Regions from separate parts of the Homo sapiens genome. Here all the other regions are linked to region 2. Evidence: fine-mapped expression QTL. A gene starts in region 2. Each other region holds a variant in brackets. All regions are shown on one strand. Distances are from middle to middle.

Evidence for each region. PIP is the estimated chance that this variant, and not a neighbour inherited with it, causes the effect. A credible set is the group of variants that fine-mapping cannot tell apart.
Region 1: its variant is the best candidate, but not a certain one, in a credible set for the expression of PRKD3 in spleen (GTEx, PIP 0.75).
Region 3: its variant is the best candidate, but not a certain one, in a credible set for the expression of PRKD3 in whole blood (INTERVAL, PIP 0.89).

What each region holds. Positions count from the first base shown.
Region 1 is chr2:37,288,622-37,296,095 of GRCh38, forward strand. PRKD3 (protein kinase D3) reads right to left here. Exons shown (of 19, transcript NM_005813.6): 3 at 4,512-4,650; 4 at 2,247-2,378; 5 at 735-892. Among named protein-coding and RNA genes, the nearest start is that of PRKD3, 32 kb to the right of the region's middle. The variant C/T (reference allele first, on the strand shown) is at 4,018.
Region 2 is chr2:37,320,976-37,328,449 of GRCh38, forward strand. It overlaps PRKD3 (protein kinase D3), which reads right to left and starts at 3,858. Exons shown (of 19, transcript NM_005813.6): 1 at 3,706-3,858. PRKD3-DT (PRKD3 divergent transcript) reads left to right here and starts at 4,106. Exons shown (of 2, transcript NR_183394.1): 1 at 4,106-4,547; 2 at 5,502-5,789. RefSeq lists an enhancer at 2,869-2,948 and a silencer at 3,589-4,218.
Region 3 is chr2:37,296,402-37,303,875 of GRCh38, forward strand. The region is part of intron 2 of PRKD3 (protein kinase D3); the gene reads right to left. Among named protein-coding and RNA genes, the nearest start is that of PRKD3, 25 kb to the right of the region's middle. The variant C/T (reference allele first, on the strand shown) is at 4,767.

The DNA of each region.
Region 1 (7,474 bases), 32 kb before region 2:
TTGAGAGGTACACTGTATTAGGAAAAAAAATCACTGATTTATTAATAATGAGATCTGGGTTTAATTCCACTATCTCTTACTAATTTGCTCTCTGACTTCACACAAGTCACTTAGCTGCTCTGTGTCTCAACTGTCTCATCTGTATACAGATCTGCAGATAGCAGTGCCTCATGCCTGCGATCCCAGAACTTTGGGAGGCCGAGGCGGGCAGATCACGAGGTCAGGAATTCAAGACCAGCCTGTCCAACATGGTGAAACCTCATCTCTACTAAACATACAAAAATCAGCTGGGTGTAGTGGCACGCATCTGTAATCCCCGCTACTTGGGAGGCTGAGGCAGGAGAATTGCTTGAACCCAGGAGGCGGAGGTTGCAGTGAGCAGAGACCGTGCCACTGCACTCCAGCCTGGGCGACAGAGCAAGACTCCATCTCAAAAAAACAAAAATTAAAAAAAAAATTAAAAAAAAAAAAGATTTAAGTATGGAGACCAGGAGCCAGGATACTGACTAGAAGGCTAAAGCAGTGGTACAAGCCATAATACCATCCCAAGGTGTACAAAATGCAATTCATTACTACCGGTAAGTCCTGTCTCCATTACTACATTTTATGTTTCTTAAGTGTAGGAACATTACCATTCTTTAGCATATAAATTATGTTCTAGAGTGATGTCATACACCCTGTAGAAACACAGAGAATAACTACTACTAAAATGTCTATTACCTTAGAATACGTACCTCTTCACTGGGAAGGGCTACATATTCAGGCTGTAGGGGTCTTGGAACTGAGAGGCCGGGTCCTGGTAAAGATACATTTGACAGACGTCTCTTTCTTACTCCACTACAGTTATTTGGAATCTTGAAGGCACATCGTTTATGGTAATTTAATCCACAGCCTAAACATATTTTACAAGGTAAAATATAAGATTTAAAAAAAAATTTACTATTTAAGTGTGATACATAAAAACCACTGCTTCTTTTATTTAACATATTTTCTGTTAGCCATACCTATCCTAATTAAGAACCCAGACAGCAGGCTAAGTGGAAGCTAATGAATTCAAGAAGAAAAGGAAATGTGTAAAAAGGATAAGTCAGCTAGGGCAGTGGTTCTTGAAGTGTGGTCCCTAAGGCAACCACCTGGAAATTTGTTAGAAATGTAAATTACAAGGCTCCACCCCAGATCTACTGAATTAGAAACTACGGGGATGAGGCCCAGCAAAGTGTGTTTTACGATGCACAATACAGTTTGAGAACCACTGCCTTAAAGCACTAGTTAGCAAACTATGGCCTCTGTACCAAATTCCTCCTGTGACATGAAAATTTTATGAAACTCAAATTTCAATGTCCCTAAATAAAGTTTTATTGGAACACAACCATATCTATTCGTTTACATATTGTCTATGATTGGTTTCATACTGTAATAGCAGAGTTAAATCATGACAGAGACCATATGGCCAACAAAGTCTAAAACATTTACTCTCTGTCCCTTTACAGAAAAAGTTGATTGACCCTCCACCTTAGAAGACTGTTTCTTCATCAGAAATGTGCACCTGTGTCCTACTCCTAGCAATTCTAATTCAGAACAAATTTGACAATTTAGTTGTATGTAAGAGACAACTTTTTTTTTTTGAGACAGAGTTTCGCTCTTTCACCCAGGCTGGAGTGCAATGGTGCAATCTCGGCTCCCTGCAACCTCCGTCACCCAGGCAGGTTCAAGCGATTCTCCTGCCCCAGCCTCCCGAGTAGCTGGGATTACAGGCATCCGCCACCACGCCCGGCTAAGTTTTTGTATCTTTAGTAGAGACAGGGTTTCGCCATGTTGGCCAGGCTGGTCTCAAACTCCTGACCTCAGGTGATCCACCAGCCTCGGCATCCCAAAGTGCTAGGATTACAGGTGTGAGCCACCGTGCCTGGCCAAGAAAACTTTTAAAAACAAAAAACAACATGAATATTTATGGAGCCATTATTTTGTACTAAATATTTAACCCTATTACCTGATTTAACCGTTTACTCTTTATGAAACCAGTGGGGCAGAATGTATTTTACGAGAAATTAATCTTAAGAGGTTTAGTAATTTGCCCAAGAATATGAAGTAGGTGGCAGAGATAAAATGAGAGTCCTGATCTCTCCAATTCTAAATCCTCGTTACCACCCTAGTCAACAGCTCGTCATCTTGCTTTTTCACTGATAATAAAAAATGCAAATGTGGAATCTTATTTCAAATGACCACAAAAATTTTAGAACACACACCTTCACATTTCAGTCCTTGACGTACCAATCCCCAGAGCATCTCACCACAGTAATCACAGAAAGTAGGAGCTTTGTAAGAATGTACATAGAGAGTATGTGGACGAATCTGGAAGTCTTCTACTGTGGCTAAAGCTTTAAAAAAGAAAAGTATTACAATACACGTTGTATTTGTACTGCGATGAGATTAAGAATGCTCACACATTCACTTATGTCAAAGTACACAGAATCATTTTTTCTCTGAAAGTTGCACTGGACCATAAAAGTAAATTATTTAATATTGTGATTTCAAACTCTAGTTTAGCAAGTCCATTTACTTCTCATCATTTGAGCTCCAGAAGTAGGTCATAGGTTAGTTATTTGGAACTCCAACAGCATTTTCTCATAATGACAAGATTACAAACAGACATTAGGTTACTTTAACCAATTAAAAACTGCTTAACTTACACAGTGGGAAATAGAACACTAAAGTAAAAACTACTATGGAACTTAACTTCAATTTATGGAAACGTTTCTGTGGAAAAAGATACTGAGTCCTAATTTAGGATCCCAGGATATACTTGTCTGTTTGTTCTCCACAGTCCTAGTGGATATGAGAAAGAAACTCCTTTCCCCTTAGTGAACGTCGGGACAGTAGACCCAAGGAACTTCCTCTCACCTCAACCTGCAAGTAGTCTGATGGAGTCCAGAGTAGAGAAGGAAGAGATGTGAGCAGGACTTCCAGGTGAGACAGGGAGTGAAACTCCTCAGGAATGAAGAGGAGGGCAAGGATTGGGAAATATAGAGATGGTTTGGGGTTGTTGTATAGAAGATGAATGATCAGTGTAGCAGGGAGTGAGATGAATGAGAGAATCAGAAATATAAGATGAGAGGAGTGGGGACTAATAAGGACAGAGAGGATCTCAAGAAAAGGCTCAAAGGTGAATTTGAGAAAAGGGAACTTGGTAGCAGGGCTCTGACCCATGGCTGGCCAGCTTGCTTCCTTTCTTCCATCAGTTCTCCTACTTGCCAAACAAAAAGTACTGCAGACCTACTATGTGCATTATTATGGCATTCTTTCTTCCTTTTCACTCCTTATTATCTTGCCCACATTGCTGCAGGATGAGATGGCAAATAGTGGGAATTAAAAAACAACGTATGGCAAGAATGCGTGAGGTGGAAAAAGTGAAAGGTAGAAAAAAGCCCAGTGGGACAAAAAGGGAAAGAGCATTTTTAATTTTAAAGCCACAGAAATAACCAGCATTGTAATTTCCTCTTCCATATCTTCATTACTTCTTTTTTTCCTGATTCTCTTTTCTAAACCCCAATTTTCTTCTTTTATGCTCTTTACAGAAATGGGGGTGGGGGAAGGGGAAAAAACAGAATTTCAGTGTAACTGTTTTATTTCTTTGACTCAGAGAAGAGTATATTTCTTTCAGACCAAATAATTTCCTAAGCTTAGTAACATTCAAGTAATTCAGTTTATTTTCCTATCCTGATTTTTTCCTTTTTTTTTTTTTGAGACAGAGTCTCACTCTGTTGCCCAGGCTGGAGTGCAGTGGTGCGATCTCGGCTCACTGCAAGCTCCACCTCCTAGGTTCACGCCATTCTCCTGCCTGAGCCTCCCCAGTAGCTGGGACTAGGCGCCCACCACCACGCCTGGCCAAATTTTTTTTGTATTTTTAGTACAGACGGGGTTTCATCTTGTTAGCCAGGATGGTCTTGATCTCCTGACCTCGTGATCCGCCCGCCTCGGCCTCCCAAAGTGCTGGGATTACAGGCGTGAGCCACCGCG[C/T]CAGGCCTTTCTTTTGCTTTTTTAAAGAGACGAGTCTCGCTCTGTTGTCCAGGCGGAAGTGCAGTAGTGTGATCATGGCCCACTGCAGCCTCAACCTCCCAGGATCAGGCAATCCTCCCACCTTATCCTCCCAAGTAGCTAAGACTACAGTTGCATGTGACCATGCCTGGCTAATTTTTTTTTTTTAAATTTTTAGTAGAGACGAGGTATGCTGCTCAGGCTGGTCTCAAACTCCTGAGATAAGCAATCCTCCCGCCTCAGCTTCCCAAAGTGCTGGGCTTACAGGTGTGAGCCACCGTTGCCAGGTATTTTTCTTTCTTAATGGTGATATAACATGCCTGAAAGGAAAAATCATATGGTGACCATTATTAGAGATGAAAGAAATTAAGTAACAATAATACAAAGACTAAATATAATCGAATTGCAGCATTTAGTACAGAAAATTAGGCTCTTTGAGGGGAAAAGGCAATCACTCTAAAAAGCCACTTACTTACCTGAAAGAACCACTTCCACTAGGTCTCCTTCATGTATTTCATCTGCTGAGGTAATCAGCTGCAAAATGTTTTCTGAGTTCATGTCATGGCGAAAGAGAAGAATTTTGTCATACATGCCAAAGAATCCACACTCTGGAAACTGAGGGATAATAGTCCTATATCAGTATGACCACAGTTTTCTATTTTTATAAGTAAACGTTTCAATTTTATCAAAGAATTTAAAACATAGTGTTTTTAACCTAACACTATTTGCTAACAATTCTATTGATACCTAAAAGGTGATCCACGTACTCAAGCATCCTGGTTAATTTTAAAGTTCAAGAAAAATAGAAAAGTAAACTTACAAATAAATAATCATTGATGATTTTAAAATACATGTCTCTTACAAATACAGGATTTCTATATTCAGTTACTGATGGAGAATATAATCTTAAACTTACTGCTACTCCACTCTTAGCCTGAAAGATAAGCAGTCGTTCCAGCGCCTTAGGACATGCTGCTCTAAATATTTCAAAATTCTTCAGTAGATCTCAGAATTATAAATGCTCACTGACTTATTTGGGCTCCTCATAGAATATCCTTTAATAAATGACACCATGTCACCTGCCTGCATCAAATGGTCTAATATGAATCAGTTTCACTAAACTAAATGCATTTGTCACAGAGACGCTGCTGCTGATATCGTTTACCTATTTCATACTGTAGCCCTTCTTTGTGAAGACCCACCCACAAAATAACTTTATCTAGTTGATTTTATAACATGAACAATTTGCTCACGTAAGTTAACATGTTTTCCTGTTTGCTTTGCCAAATGGAAAAAGCACAGCCAAATTTGTAGCCCAATTTTACCATCAGTCTTGGATCTTATGGGATGTGTTTTAGGTGCAAACACTAACCTAGTTTCATCTCATTTTCTGACCTTAATTTTCTCATTAGAAAAGTCCTGTATATATTTCTAAAGAGTTCTCAAAACCTTTTTTTGAGATAGGGTCTTGTTCTGTTGCCTAGGATGAGTACAGTGGTGTGATCACAGTTCAACACTGCAGCCTCAAACTCCCAGGCTCGTGATCCTCCCACCTCAGCCTCCCCAGTAGCTGGGACCACAGGTGCATGTCACCACTCCCAGCTAATTTTTTATGTTCTGTAGAGACAGGGGTCTCGCTGTGTGGCCCAGGCTGGTGTTGAACTTCTAGACTCAAGTGATTCCCCCACGTCAGCCTCCCAAAGTGCTGGGATTAGAGGCATGAGCCACCACAACTGGCCTCTCAAATCTTTTTTTAAAGTTAAATTAAAAAAAAATTAAAAACAATGATTAATTAGAAAGTTACAAGTTTATAGTTTTTGTAACCAGGGTAAATAATGGGAAAGTACAGAAATATTTAGAATTTTTGTAATACTAATTCTCCTTTTGAGTCACCAACAGTATTTGTAAAACCTCATAGTATGTTTAACATATATCTAAGAGTGTAAGAATTCTCAATTAAAAAGATACAAGTAAAAATACAGAACCAAAAAATTAAATCTTCATTTAAATTTTAAAATTAAAATTTTACTAAATTTTATGAAATTATTCAGTTGGAGAATAAAATATCTTCATAACCTAGTTACAAAAATTTGTAAGGACAAAGGACTCCACATTCCATCCTCATTAAAACTCTAAGGCCAGATGCACTGGCTCATGCCTGTAATCCCAGCACTTTGGAAGGCCAAGGCAGGCAGATCATTTGAGGTCAGGAGTTTGAGACCAGCCTGGACAACATGGTGAAACCCTGTCTCTGATAAAAATACAAAAATTAGCCAGGTGTGGTGGTGCATGCCTGTAGTCCCAGCTACTTGGGAGGCTGAGGCATAAGAATCACTTGAATCTGGGAGACAGAGGTTGCTGTGAGCCAAGATTGCACAACTGCACTCCAGTCTGGGTGACTGACAGAATGAGGCTCCGTCACAAACAAACAAACAAACTCACTCACTCTACTATTTGTATAAATAAAACTGATTTCAAAAAGGCATACTTCTTGCATGTCCGGTAAGTGCAAGATACTGGCCCCACAGTTTGTAAAGACAGAATAGTCCTTATCTTCCAGGAACTTACAATCTAGTAGGAAGACAGAAATAAACACAAATATATATAGTATAAGGCAAATAACAAAATTAAAATAAAAAATTATAGAAGGAGGAGGAATAAAAAATGTTAACTGGGACAGTGGAGTAGAGGGATTCAGTATGATACTTGAGCAGAACTAAAAAAGAGAAGCAGAGTTTCCATAGGTTGAAAGTGTAAGCATCATCAATGAGAAGTTACAAGGTAAATGGAAGACGGTAAGTGGAGCCTTGAGACTAAAGAATGAGATGGGGGAAAGCTGGGTAGAGAGAGGGCAGAAAAGCACAGGGAACCCCACTGGCACCATACTAACAAAGAAACCTGTTATTATGTTCAAACTTTGCCACCTACTAACTATAGCACCTTAGAAAAGTTGCTTAACTTCTCTAAATCAGTTTCTTGTTTATAAAATGGAGGACAATAGGAGTTATAGGCTGGCTTTATAGAGTTCTTATCAAAATTAAATTACTTGATGGCTGTAAAAGTCTCAGCACTGTGATCCATAAATACCAGTGATTTATATCACTAATGTATACCTAAAAGGGAGACGAGACATAAGGTTTCAGAGCAAGGCAGGAACATGATTAAATCTGTATTTTAAAAAGATAATGCTGACAGCATTGTGTAGAGGAACAGGAACAGAAAGAGACCAGAGAGCAAGATGCTGAAGAAAGGGTGACCCTATCAGTCAGAAAAGTATCAGAGTCTGAATTATATAGCAAGTAAATGGAAAAAGACAAGGAAATTTCTCTCCAGAAACTACAGCAAGTAAATGGAAAGAGACAAGGAACTTTCTCTCCAGAAACTACAGCAAGTAAATGGAAAGAGACAAGGAACTTTCTCTCCAGAAACTATAGCAAGT
Region 2 (7,474 bases):
TATGGACCCCAGATTTACTCTGGAAGATGCAACAAGATGTTGGGTGAAAAATATTAAAACTAAATATTAAACCTAATAACTGTAACTTACATGAACCTTGATATGCTGCTTAATTTTGTCTTTACGCTTCAATTAGAAAACTGAAAGAAGAGTACATCTTATTAATTTACAAACTATATACCAATTATATATGCTTGTTTCTAACAGGGGTACGAGGCTCTAAATAATATCATCTAGTTGGCAAGCATTTCTAATATGTTTATTTAGAACTTGTCAAATATTCTTTTGGGGAGCTAGCTGTCACATATTCCATTCAAATGAGCTTACATAATCTGTCATCATTGTTACTGGAATCAAAATATAGGATATTAATGGCATCTTGAACCCAGTCTGTCCTATTTTACAGACAAGGTGAAACAAAGGCCCTGGAGGTGAGAGGACTTACTTGAGGATTATCTCACGGTAATATCACAAGTTTATCTACTTCCTCTCCCTCTCCTTCCCCTTCCCCCATGCACACATTATCTCATTTTTAACACTCTAATTAGGAGAAGCTCTAACAGCAGTATTTCCACTTAACAAATACTTAATTAGTACTTATTATTTCCCAGACTGTTATGAGAGACACTGGAGTTATAGAGCAGTGACCGAAACAGACATGGCCACTGCTCTCTCTGAAATTCAAAGTGTGATGTGAGACACAGACATAACATTCATACAAACAGCTGGGTAATTATAAACTGCAAGAGGTGATATGGCAGAGTATACTAAGGGGACTCAATTCCAGCTGGAATCTCAGGAAAGGTACCTTTAAGGAAATATTTAAGCTGAGATCTCTGGATAAGCAAGAGTCAACGATGCAAAGAGACAGACAAAAGGATTCCAGGAAGGCAAAATGCATCTAGTTATTAAATTCTTCAAAAAGAAGTTCATTATTTAGTGCAGCATCATTCTTTTTGTACAATACTCAGCAAAGGCTAAAGTGAAGAGATAAAATGCTTTTCCTATTGGAATAACAATATTTATTATAACATGAATTCCTCCCAGTAAAGAGTTTTCCAGGTTCAACTTAAGTTTTGTGTACTAGAAATGCTAATGACGTGGAGGGTTGTGTCCACGCCTCTTGACATGTATTAATATTAGTATTCTTTTACCACGTAAAAGTATGTGGCCTTTTTCAATGCAATTCTGACCAGCGTCCTAAAGTCCATGTCCATGTTTTGACATAGGTTTGACTTTGCTTAGTAATTGTTCTTGCTTTTATATTGTATGTTGTATTTAAAAACTCAAGTGTCTACGTCGTTGGTTTTTAAAAAAATCATATCTTGTAGCAATCCCGACAATGATTTATATATTTTCAAAAATACCTATTACTTTAGATTAACATACTTTTCCTAAGAGCTTAGCATTTGCTAAATTGTTTCCTCTAAAATTCTGCTCATCTGGACCAGTGACAGTTGAATCTCAGTCCTTCCACTGTCAGAGAGTACTGAGAGAGCACACCATATCTGCTCTGCTCAGGAACTGAAAAGTTTATCCAGTAATAAGATTATGGACTGCCAGTCTGGCAATGCAATATGAATCCATGTTGAGCTTGACAGATGTTAGTCTCTGCACCAGTAGTAGCTAAGAAATCTGATTGGTTAGCAGCCAATGAGCAATTTCTCACATACTGCCACAATAAACTAACCACAGAAATGGAAAAATTTTTTTTCCTACATTAAAATGAAAATATCTCATAAGCACATTATCTCAAGTTTTTCCTGAGAGGGCTACTCAAAGAGATACATATATATATATAGCAAGTTCGATCTGAATTACATAATCAGCGAGACTCAAAGTACAATCATCACAGAAGATTGTGAATTATAAGCAGCATTATATCAAATTAAAACTTGTACTAGCAAAGAATTTCCTTATATATCAAGCTCTGTACAAGCAGTTTCTTTTAAAAACGAACAATTAACTCCACTGTAGTATTTTCAACTTTAGAGTCTTTTAAAAAAATGAGAACAAAATGTCCCTTAAGAAAACTGCACTTAAATGACCACCTATTCATATTTTTCTGTATGTGGTGTTTTCAATTCGTAATTTAAAAAAATGTAATATCAGAAAGTTTTATTTATGAAGTTCTGTGTGTGTGGCAGTGTTTAAATCCACGAACAGAAAGAAATTTCTATTTTAAAGTGGCTATCTGATGAAACTGAAAGCTTAAAATTTTCTCTAAAAGACTTACCATTATCTAGGATGCTTAAAAAATTAGTTTTAAGATACACATCAGTCAACATTCTTAATGTGAAACGCTATATACTAAATTACAGAACCTGAGTCACCCTGAAATGTGAAATGCTATATACTAAATTATAGAACCGAGGATGGAACCTGGCTCGTCAAGGAGTACTCCAAGCTCATGCACTCAGGCCCACCACAACTGTATTACTACCTACTGAAGAAAAACCTTCCACGGTTTCTGTGTGACACGTTTCAAATCCTACTTTTAGAAAATCTTCTAACTTCTTGGCTGAATGTCCATGCTTGATCTTAACTCGGAATCTAACAGGGAAGGAAGCAAGGGTTCGTTGACAAGGAAAAACTGGCCTAGATCTCAGTCGGGGGAACTTTATGGACGCCTTCTGCAGCAAAGCTAAGGAAAATGAAAATCGCTAAAAATGTAAGAACGACGACATTAAGTAGAAGGGTAAAAAAAAAGTTTCAGAGGAATAAAATAACATTTTCTAGGATACAAATTAAGGCATTTAAAAGTTCTTGTTCCATTTGTGGCTATGTCTCATAAAAGCTGTGTCGCACCAAGCAGCAGTTCAGGGTGTAACTTATCCTTCCTAATCAAAGATGACACCGATAGTCTTATTTCCTGTGGGGATGGGTGTGATTGAAGACACAGTTACGTCCATGCCATCAATCTGTGTGTGGAAAAGTCGGCAGGTCGCGCGCACACACTTGTCGCTTGAATCGTATGTGTGCCTGCAGACGGCAAGGCCTATGCCTCTGACTGCGTTCACCTGAAATAAAATACCCAACCGGCAATACAGTAGTATATGGTTATTTTCACTGCTCAAAGAAACAGTGGCACTCCTCAGTGTTTCAGCTTAAGGAAAACCTCCCAGGAGGGAGCAACTCGGAACAATGCTGCAACTAGCAAATCCAAACGCAGTCGGGATACTGGGGCGAGGGGCTTACATTCTCCAAGCACCATTTACTCACCCCTTTGAGACGACTACAACGCAAAGTGAGGAAATGAAACGAAAAAGCTGGTCCAAAATTCGGCACTGCGAGCGCCGCGGGTCTGGCTTCGGGAACTAGTTTGGGAGACCCGGGAACGGATCGCCTCCGATGGGCCGGGCGCGGTGGTCTCCAGCGGAGCGCGAACCCAAGTTGCCCTCCGCGCGGACGCCGGAACTTGGCCCCTCTGGCGGCTGCGGCGGCGCCCCCGCTCCCCCTCAGCCGCCCACCTCCCGCCGCGCGCTCCCCCAACTTCCCGCCCAGCGCGGCTGACACCGCCCAGCCCGGCGCGGGGTCCGAGTCCTGTCGCCGCCGCCGCCGCGTGCAGTTGGGGGGTTGGGGGTTTGGGGGATGGGGGAGGGGCCGCCGCCGCCTCAGCCCGACGGGCCGGGAGAACAAAGCGGCGGCGGCGGCGGCGCGAACTTTTTCGGTGTCTGTTCAGCGCTCCCCGAGGCGACTACTTACAGTGGCAGGCTCGGCCCGTCGTGAGAAACTGCGCCCGCCAGCGTCTGAGTACCGGACGAGGCGCCAGCGAGGCTTCACGCGCCTCGCAGGATCCCGCCCGCCTCCGGCGCCCCTTCCTCCCTCCCTCCCCGTCCCGTCCTGGGGCCGGAGGGCGGGGGGCCGGGGCGCGCGGGGGGCGGGGGCGCGCGGCCAGCGCGGGGCCTGCCGGGAGCTGTAGTTCCTCGGCCCGCGCCCGCCGGGAGGTGGCCGCGGCGGGAGGTCGGGGTTGTCTCTGCCCCGCGAAGGGGCGCCGGGAGCGCCGGGTACAGTCGGGCTGGCTCCGCACCCTCGAGTTCCGGGCGTCTTCGTGAGCGCGGGGGCACGGGGCAGGGGCGCCGCGGGAGTCGCGAGCGTGTCTATCAGTTACACGCGGTACTTGATCGCGCTGTTGCCGACGGTACTGTCTTTTCCTCTACTGCCGTGCACTCTTGAGGGAGGCGGTGGCGACAATGGGCCAGAGGTGATAGTTGGAACGGGGGACTTGTAAGGCGTCCAGAGCAGAGAGCTGCTTCCACCCTGAGATGTCACAGCCCTCCCGCATGCTCCTCCCTGCTGCCTGCCCCCGGGGTGGCCGCCGGCACCGCAGCTCGGCGCCCAAACCGGCACGTCCCAAGCCCGACGTTCCGGTGACTGCAGGGGTTTTCCCGGTGCTCGGTGTTTCCTCCCCGTCGGCCTTTAAACGCGAATGTGACCCTACCACCAAAGTGGAGTGCAGTCCAGAATCACCAAACCTGGGCTTCCAGGTGTCTGGAAACACAATGTTAACATTTGTTTTGCTCCAAAACAAAGTATGACCGTGTCGGGTGAGTGGGGCGGGAGTGGGAGTCAGCAGCATAAGGATCTAGAGGGAAAATACACTGTGCATAAATTTTCGATGTCTTATGTGAGAGAAAGGCCTGAGAAGCTGACAGGCATTGTCACAGAAGCCACATGATTCTCCTTATGTCAACATTTTATCCCAAAAGTACTTAAATATATTGAAACAATCAGAGGGACTACAATCAAGAGGGCAGTTTTCTTTCTTCTCTCTTTTTCTTTCTTTTCCCCTTTCTCTCTTTCTTCTTTCTCTCTAGAAAAGGTTTTACTCTGTCATCCAGGCTGAAGTGCAGTGACACGATCATAGCTCACTGCAGCCTGGAGCTGCTGGGCTCAAGTGATTATCCTGCGTCAGCCTCCCAAGCAGCTGGGACTACAGGCGTGTGCCACCACGCCCCACTAACTTTTAAGTTAGTTTTTGTAGAGACGAGGTCTCTTGCTGTGTTACCCAGGCTGGTCTCCTGACCTCAAGAGATCCGCCCGCCTCGGCCCTCCAAATCGTTGGGATTACAGGCGTGAGACACCGCGCCCAGCCAAGAGGGCAGTTTTCAAGAATAGAAAGAAAAATAAACATAAATTAGCCCCTACTTTTGATACAAAATCATCACTCTTAATGGATGTCCTCGGATTTAAAGTTAAGAAATGAAAATATTAAGATAATTTATATTAAACATAAGGCAGGTAAGATTGTGTAAAACCTTGATTACTTTATTTAAAAATCTATTTAAAAAAAGATTTCTGAAACATTCTCAGGAATTGGAAGTTGCTAAATGTCTTACATCCAGCAGTATCTAATTCAATCTTACTATATTTTTGTTATTAGAGTCCTATTCAGCTATTCTTTTACTTTAAAATTGAAAGTAGATTTACTCAAGTTTGCCTTCTTTTTAAAGGACTCTCTTGCTTAACTTTGCCCTTTTCTTCCTTTCACTTCCCAACAGACGTTTTAGTCCAGCCCCAAATTTTGCCTCTGAGCAAGATTCCCAGGACCTCATTGGAGCAGTTTACAGCCAGTCTTATCTCACTATTAACTTCCATTTTCTGCTGTAGTACTTAAAGTGACAGAAGTTACTCTTCCTAGAAGTAACTTTTCCAGACGATTCAAACTGCTGTTATACAGAGATTTAAGTATTTGTGTGCATGTGTGAAAACAGAGATATGTAATGTATATATTTCATTTTATTTCCACTGTTCTGCTTCTCTTTTTAAAAATAAAGCGGTCTCCTCCACTTTGGGTAAATCTTTCAGCACATTTGATCAAAGAACTATCTTTGTATCTAATTTTTTGCTTAACATGAACTACAGTTTCCTCAAGGTGTTCCATTCCTGAGCATTACAGAGATAAAGATTGAATTTAATAAATAAGTGTATTGCCATGTGAAATGTTTTAATCCTTGAGAGAAAATATAATCTGAATGCTCAAAATGGAAAGGATTTTTCTTCTTGCTGGTGTTTTATGAAAACGAGCTTACAATATTGCTCTTCTATGGCTGCAGTTGGAGAGCTTGTCCCGCATTATTGGGCTCCTTGTACTTAATGACACACAACATAGCCATTCAAATATGTTACCTAATGCAAGCAAAGAAAGTCAACACTCTTGTGACTTGAGATAACAGAGACATCTGATTTAGAAACCTAAATGCAGGGGGAAAAAATGATCTGCCCGCCGCAGTCTCCCAAAGTGCTGGGATTACAGGCATGAGCCACTGCGCATGGCCCTTATTTTTATTTATTCATCGTTTAGCACAGTGCTCAATAAATGTTGATTAAATCAGTGAATTTTTTCACTAGGGAAATTGATGACAATTTCCAGCTAGAGGAAATTGTCATCATTTTAAAACTGCAGCTGGTTTTAATTTATAGAATGTGGTCACTGGAAAATTATTTTGTGATTGTGTCTTTTTCCATGACCTTGAAACACAGCTGAAAAATTCAATAAAGCATTTGGGTATCAATATAGAGTTAGTAAAATAGTTATGGGAGAAAATGCTTTAGGATCTATTTCTTTATCAGCAGAGACATACGTGATGATATAGTTCTCAAAATGTCCTGTCTCAGTTTCCACTGCCGTTATCCTAGTCCATATCTCACATCTGGATTACCACAACAGACTTTAAGTTGGTGTCCTAGACTAGCTCAAACTGTTATATCCTTGGAACTGTCTTGTCTGATTTGCAGGCTATCAATAATTGTTCTGTGTTCTGATAGCCCTTGAGAGATAATTCTCATGTGGCTCATCACATTTTATTGTGGACTGAGTGTTTATCACATCCTCCTGGGATCGCTATCTGCCCTTCCCTTTTCTGAACTTGAAGAAGACCAGATCTTTTATTTATTTATTTATTTATTTTATTTATTAGTAGAGACAGGGTTTCACTATGTTGTCCAGGCTGGTCTCCAACTCCTGTCCTCAAGTGATTCACCAGCCTCAGTCTCCCAAAGTGCTGGGATTACAAGCGTGAGCCACTGTACCCGGCCGTTTTTTAAATTTATTCATCATTTAGCATAGTGCTCAATAAATGTTGATTAAATCAGAGAATTTTTTCAATATGTCTTGATGATAGTAGTTAGTCTAGTAGTCCTAAAGTACCACATGATAAACTCTGCAGTCATTCCTTATCACCTACCTTACCACGTCCAAATTCTTCTGCTTGGGTATAAAGGTTATTAATAATATCTATTGCTTATTGAACACCAGCTCTGGGCCAGGCACATTCATTCGTTTTTAATGTAACTTTCTGTATTCCATATAACTCCTCTCTTTCCTTTATTTGCACTTATATTTAGCTTTATATAATTTTACACTTGGTTATATTACTATGTTCATATATCTCCATATATATTTCCTATATTTCCAGTCTTAGTGCATAGTGCCACCATCTAGTCATTGAAGACAGAAACTACTTGGTCAGCC
Region 3 (7,474 bases), 25 kb before region 2:
TATGTATATTAGAGGCTAGAAAGCTGTTGGTAATGATAAAGAATAAAGTCATTTCAGCATGTTTTCATACTATACTCATCTATACGACAGACAAATTAGAGTTCATAAAGGAAAAAAAAAATGTAATAGCCAGCCTGTGAAAAAGATTTCTGCTATTCGTGATTATGATTTATAGGTATGTTTGGTAGGGTATTTAGAAATTACGTAAGAGTCAGGCCGGGCGCAGTGGCTCATGCCTGTAATCGCAGCACTTTGGGAGGCCGCGGCGGGAAGATCAGGAGGTCAAGAGATCAAGACCATCCTGACTAACACGGTGAAACCCCATCTCTACTAAAAAATATACAAAAATTTAGCCGGGCGTGGTGGCGGGCGCCTGTAGTCCCAGCTACTCCGGAGACTGAGGCAGGAGAACGGCGTGAACCCGGGAGGCGGAGGTTGTAGTGAGCTGAGATGGCACCACCGCACTCCAGCCTGGGCGACAAAGCGTGACTCTGTCTCAAAAAAAAAAAAAAAAAAAAAAAATTATGTAAGAGTCTAAACTAAAAACATGAGAATTCTTGAGACGTGTATATTAAAGATATACACCTAAAAAGAAATACACCCCTCATTCATAATGAGCACACATTCATTATGAAGAATTATACAGAACAAACAAAAACCAAACTGTTAATGAATTCAATATACAAGGATTTACTGTTCCTGATTTTGAAAAATTCAGAAAATAGGTTTTCACGCAGGAGTGGATCTCTAAACAATGTCTTAATTCTGGCCACACATCAGAACCACCTGTAGAGCTTAAAACAAAGGATGCTTAGGCTATCATTTCAGGTTTATGGTTAAGCTCCTGAGGAATAGGCGGCGAACACCTGAATTTTAAATTTACTTTTAAAATATTATTCAATGTATGTATTGTATATACTCTTTAAAAATAATCTATTTTTAAAAATAGTTTAAAATTTATAGAAAATGTAGACAATAAATAGTACAGAGTTCCTGTATACTACCCCATACCCAGTTTCCCCTATTATTAACATTGTACATTAGTTACATGCTATATTTATTACAATTAATAACCCAATATCCATACATTATCATTAACTAAGGCTCATACTTTATTCAGATTTCCTTATTTTTACCTAATACCCTTTTTCTGTTTAAGAATCCCATCCATACCACATCACCTTTAACTGTTATGTCCCCATAGGCCCCTTTTGGGCTGGGTTAGTTTCTCAGACTTTGCTGGATTTTAACAATCTTGGCTGTTTTGAGAAGTTCTGGTCAGGTATATTGCAGGAGGCCTTTCTACTGGAATTTGTCTGATGTTCTTTTCATTATTACTGGGGTAATGGGTTTTGGGGAGGCAGACCACAGAGGTAAAGTGCCATTCTCATTGCACTCTACCAAGGGCACCTACTGTCAACATGACATCACCACTGATGTTGGTTGAGGTAGTGTTTGTCAGGTTTCTCCACTGCAAAACTACTCTCCCCCCACCCTTTTCTATACATACTCTTTGGAAGTAAGTCATTATGAGCAGAGCACTTAAGAAGTGGAAAGGTTTGTTTGTTTCCTTTCCTTGAAGGTGGAGTATCTACATAAATTATTTGAAAATCTTCCAAATGGGAGATTTATCTATTTTCCCCCACTTATTTATTCACAACATTTATATATATCAATATAGACTCATGGATATTTACTTTATACTTTCAGATATAATATGTACTCTTTTAAAATATAATTTTATTTATTTTTGAATAGGCAATTATTCAAAGTTCAAAAGGCAAAAAAGAGTAGACGGCACACCCATGCCCTAGCTGCCTCATTAACCGTCCTGTAGTCAACAGTGTTGCCAGTTTTCTCAGAATCCTTCTGAAAATATTTTACATACCAAATACACATGAATGTATCTTTCCTTCATTTTACACAAATGGCAGCACACTATAAACACTGTTCTGCAGCTTGCTCTTTTTTTCACTTAGCAATATAGAGATCATTCCATTAACAAAGTTATTTTTTTTTTTAAAAACAGATGTATAGTTTTCTTTCACCAGTCCCATCTAAGTATATAATCTTAACCAAGTTACTTAACCTCAGTTTTTCCATCTGTAAAATAGTGCCTACTTGCCTACTTCATAAAATTATCATGAGAATACGTTAATATATATATACAAAGAACTCAGTGTCCTTTTCAATTTTTTTCATCAATGTTTTATAGTTTTCATTGTAGAGATCTTTCACTTCTTTGGTTAAGCTTATTCCTAGGTATTTTATTTTATTTATAGCTATTGTAAATGGGATAATTTTCTTGGTTTCTATTCCAGATTGTTCACTGTTGGCATATAGAAATGCTACTGATTTCTGTATGTTGATTTTGTATCCTACATCTTTACTTAATTCATTTATCAGTTCTAATGGTTTTTTGGCAGAGTCTTTAGGTTTTTCTAAATAGAAGATCATATCGTCTGCAAAAAAGGATAATCTGACATCTTCCTTTCCAATTTGGATACCATCTATTTCTTTCTCTTGTCTAATTGCTCTACTTAAGACTTCCAGTATTATGTTGAACAAAAGTTGTGAAAGTGGGCATCCTTGTCTTGTTTCAGATCTTAGAGGAAAGGCTTTCAGTTTTTTCCCATTCAGTATACCAGCTGCATGTCTGTCATATATGGCCCTTACTGTCTTGAGGTATGTTCCTTCTATACCTAGTTTGTTGACAGTTTTTATCACGAAGTTTTCATTGTGTTGAATTTTACTGAATGTTTTTTTGGCATCTATTGAGATGACCATATGGGTTTTGGTCTTCACTCTGTTGACGTGACATATTATGTTTAATGATTTGCGTATGCTGAACCATCCTCATATTCTAGAAGAAAACAATGGGGAAACACTCCAGGACATTAGCCTGGGCAAAGACTCCTTGAGTAAGACCTGAAAAGCACAGGTAGCCAAAATAAAAATGGACAAAGGGGGTCACATCAAGCTAAAAAGTCGGGCACAGTGACTCACACTGATAATCCTAGCACTCTGGGAGGCCAAGGTAGTGGACTGCCTGAGCTCAGGAGTTCGAGACTAGCCTGGTCAACATGGTGAAACCCCACCTCTACTAAAATACACACACACACACACACACACACACACACACACACACACACACACACAAGCTTCTGCAAGGAAATAATTAACAAGTGAAGTGACAACCTACAGAATGGGAGAAAATATTTGCAAACTATTCAACTGACAAGGGGTTAATAACCAGAATATATAAGGAGCTCAAATGACTCAACAACAACAAAAAAAGAAAATCCAATTAAAAAATAAGCAAAAGATCTAAATAATACATTTCTCAAAAGAAGACATACAAATGCCCGATTGGTATATGAAAAGATACTCAACATCACTAATCATCAGAGAAATGCAAATCAAAACCACAATGAGATATCATCTCATCTCAAAATGGCTTTTATCAAAAAGACAAAAAATTAAAGATGTTGGTGAGGATGCAAAGAAAGGGGAATGCTTATACACTATTGGTGGGAATGTAAATCAGTACAGTCACTATGAAAAACAGCACGGAGGTTGCCAAAAATAAAACCACCACAGGATCCAGCAATCTCGCTACAGGGTATCTACCCGAAAGAAACCAAGATATCAAAAAGATATCCGCGATCCCATGGTTACTGCAGCAAAATTCACAATAGCCACAACAGGGAATCAACCTAAGTGTCCATCAATGGATAAATGGATACAGAAAATGTGATACACATACATGGTGGAATATTATTCAGCCATAAAAAGAATGAAATCCTATAATTTGCAACAACATGGACAGAAGTAGAGAATAACATTTCAGTTGGTGAAATAAGCCAGGCACAGAAAGACAAGTATTGCATGTTCTCACTTGTATGTGAAAAATTTAAAAAAAAAATGACCTCATGGAGATAGAGAGTAGAATGATGACTACCAGAGGCTCTGAAGGGTAGTGGGTGGGGGGAATAAAAGGGTTGGTTAATGATTACAAAACTACAGTTAGATAGAAAAAATAAGATCCAGTGTTTGGTAGCATGATAGGTAGACTACAGTTAACAACAATTTATTGTATATTTCAAAATAACTAGAAGAGTAGAATTGGACTGTTCCTAACACAAAGAAATGATAAATATTTAAGGTGATGGATATCCCAATTACCCTCATTTGATCATTATGCATTGTATGCTTGTATCAAAATATCACATGTACCTCATAAATATGTACAACTATTATTTATCCAGAAAAATAGAAATAAAAGAGATTAGAACTCGTCATAAGCTAAATACACCTTAGCTATTCCAATCTCTTGTGAGTATGAGCAATACCCAATGAGTAATCCTATGTACATATCTTTTCCCACTTTTTGAGTCTGAATATGAGATAACTTTCTAGGAGATTTGCTGGCTCAAAGAAAACGCATATTTGAAATTTGTAGATACTGCCAAATTGCTCTTTATGGCGGTCAAACCAATTTATACTTCTGCAAGTAATATATTGAGTATGTACTTGTTTTGCCACGTTTTTATAGTGTATTATCAAACTTGTTGACTTTAGATGAAAAATGGTATTTTTGTAGTTTTAATTTGCATTTCTTTTTTTATTACAAGAAGTTGAACATTTTTCACATGCTTAAGTGAATCTGTATTTTCTTTTCTGTAAATTAGGAATTCATATTTTTGCTTATTTTTAATGGATTGATCATCTTTAAAACTCCAAATCCAATTACTCCTCAGAATGAT[C/T]TTCATTATGTGGAGACCTTTAATAAGTCCTGAACAACATATCAAAAAACCATAAACAAAAATACTTTATATTCCAAAGTATATATGTAGAATTTCTCAAAATGATTTGACAGCAGTGAAACCTAAGAGAGCTTTTAAGATAATAGCTTCTTGTTCTAAATCAGACTCCAGGAGAACAAAGAACAAAGGAGAAGAGCCTTTTTTTTTTCTTTCAGTTGTATAATTTGAAAAGGAGAAAATATTTTGGCAAACTAATTAAAACCAATTCTGGATTACATTTTTTTTTTTTGAGTGGGGGTCTCCCTCTGTTGCCCACAATGTAGTGGCTTGATCACTGCTCACTGCAACCTCAAACTCCTGGGCTCAAGCAATCCTTTAGCCTCAGCCTCCCAAAGTGCTGAGATTATAGGCACGAGTCACCTTTCCTGGCCCTTAATTACATTTGTGACTCTGCTATGCTCACAGAGTCAAAAGGGGCGGGGGCAGAAACCTGTACTAATGCTGTTGTCTCTATATTCTTCAAAATACAATTCTTGCCCAGTAAAATGGTGTATATATATCCCTTCTAAACATTCTATTCTCCTGAGAGGGAAGAAGTTCAGAAAAGCAGCAGAGGTGATGACATGTTTAAGTAATTGTCAGGAATTGTCACTGGCTATTATTTAGTTTATTCCTCTAGGGCAATGATCCTCAGCTGAGATGATTTTGCCCACAGAAGCTATATGACAATGTCCTGAGACATCTTTGGTTTTCACAACTTGAGCTAGTGGCATTCAGTGGGTAGAGCACTGTAGAACACAGAGGGCAGCCCCCACAAGAATTATCCCACCCAAAATGTCAATAGTGCTGAAGCTGAGAAATCCTGCTTTAGGGAATAAAAGAGTCAAGAGAATAAAGAGGCTAGGAAATGTGGAAGAAGTTGGCAACCTTTTGAAAACCAGACAAGTCCATAATTCCTTACCTGGCCTACCTCATCCTTGATTAAAAGAAAGAGGAAATTAAAGAAATAACTAATGATACAGCATGGTAGAAGCAAAATGGCCCTTTAATTTGGCCTCTTTCCAACTGTTCCCCCATCCCCCGAGCTTTTCTGGATTTGCTTACTACAAACTGTGCCGATGACCCCTCTTGACTGTGCAAAATGAAGTATTTTCCCAGTCCATATGGGAATGCAACAGAATATCAGTTATTAAATTTCCACCCTCATGCACTCTGCTCACTTCATTCTTTGCTTTTGTATTAAAGATGACTTCGATAATTTTAAAAAATAATCTTTCTATAACCATTTTAGACGTTATTTTTTACAGCATTACTTAACATTTTTAAGTAAAAGGTTCCAATAGTTGCAAACAAAATTATTTTAAGCAACACTTATTTTGAAAGTAATTTAAGGTGAACCGTTTCAAGTTCATGTCGTTAAAATGCTGTCAGTAAAATGTCAGGCAAGGTAGGAAGCTTCCAAGTTATTTCACTTGGTCAAACATAATTTTTGCACTTTAACAATGGTTTCTGAATTTAACATTATCTGAATGAATAATTTATCACTATGAACTTTTAATTTTTTTTTTTAGACACAGTCTCACCATATTGCCCAGGCTGGTCTCCATCTCCTGAACTCAAGCAATCATTCTGCCTCAAGCCTCCCCAAGTGCTGATGATAGAGACAGAAGGCAGAGAAATACTAGGCAGACAGGGGTGGGTCCTGGCGAAACCCCACCTTCAAGATGAAAAGCCTGAAACCCATTGCCCAAAGTGAGAACTTCTATCTCTGTTTGCCTGCTCTCTCCTGATTGGTTCTTTCTAAATGTCTTTTTACCAATCGAATGTTGCCTTTTCCAAAACTACCTACGGCCGGCCCCACGGCCCAACCCCTGTCCTGTGCCTATAAAGACCCCAGACTCAGCCAGTAGAGAGAGAGAAGCAGCTTGACTGGAGAGAGGTGACTTGACATTGGAGGGACAGCTGGACTTCAGAGGATGGCCTGACTATCGGGAAGAGCCGCTGGACCTCAGGAGAAGATTACCTGCCCGTCCCGTCCCCTCTCCCACATCCCACTCTGCTGAGAGCCATTTCCCATCACTTACCACCTTCACCATCCTTCAAGTGTCTGGGGGATCTCATTGTTCTTAGATGCCAGACAAGCACTGGAGACCCAACAAGTGCCAGTACCCCAAAAAAGGCTGTTGCATAGGCCCTTTCCCCTTGCTGGTGGAGGGCAGCCACCCCACACGATGAGGCAAGGCGCCCACTGAGCTGATAACACGCTGCTGTCCATGGATGGCAGACCTAAGAGAGTATTATATCTTCTGGGGCCTCTGGGGGGTTTCAGGCACCACAACCTAAGTGCCGCTGTGGGGCCCTTAGGTTGAAGGGCCCCACAGGTATGAAGTCTGCTCCTGCCATCACTCAAGGCAGCTAGCCAGATCCTGCACTCGTTTGCTCACATGTTCCCTCCCAAAAGAGGTTGAGTGTGGCGGACTGAGTAAACAGGGTACCCCGTCCCAAGTCCGATGAAGAGGTCAAGAAAAATCCTACATCACTGAGATTACAGGTATGAGCTGCCGTGCCCAGCCAGTATGTACTTTTTTAAAAAGAAGAATGAAGGTTTTATTCTAAATGCAATGGGAAACGATCGAAGTTTAACATACATTTACTTTTAAAATGTACTTGATATATAATAAATGCACTAATCTTAATTAGAAGCTTGA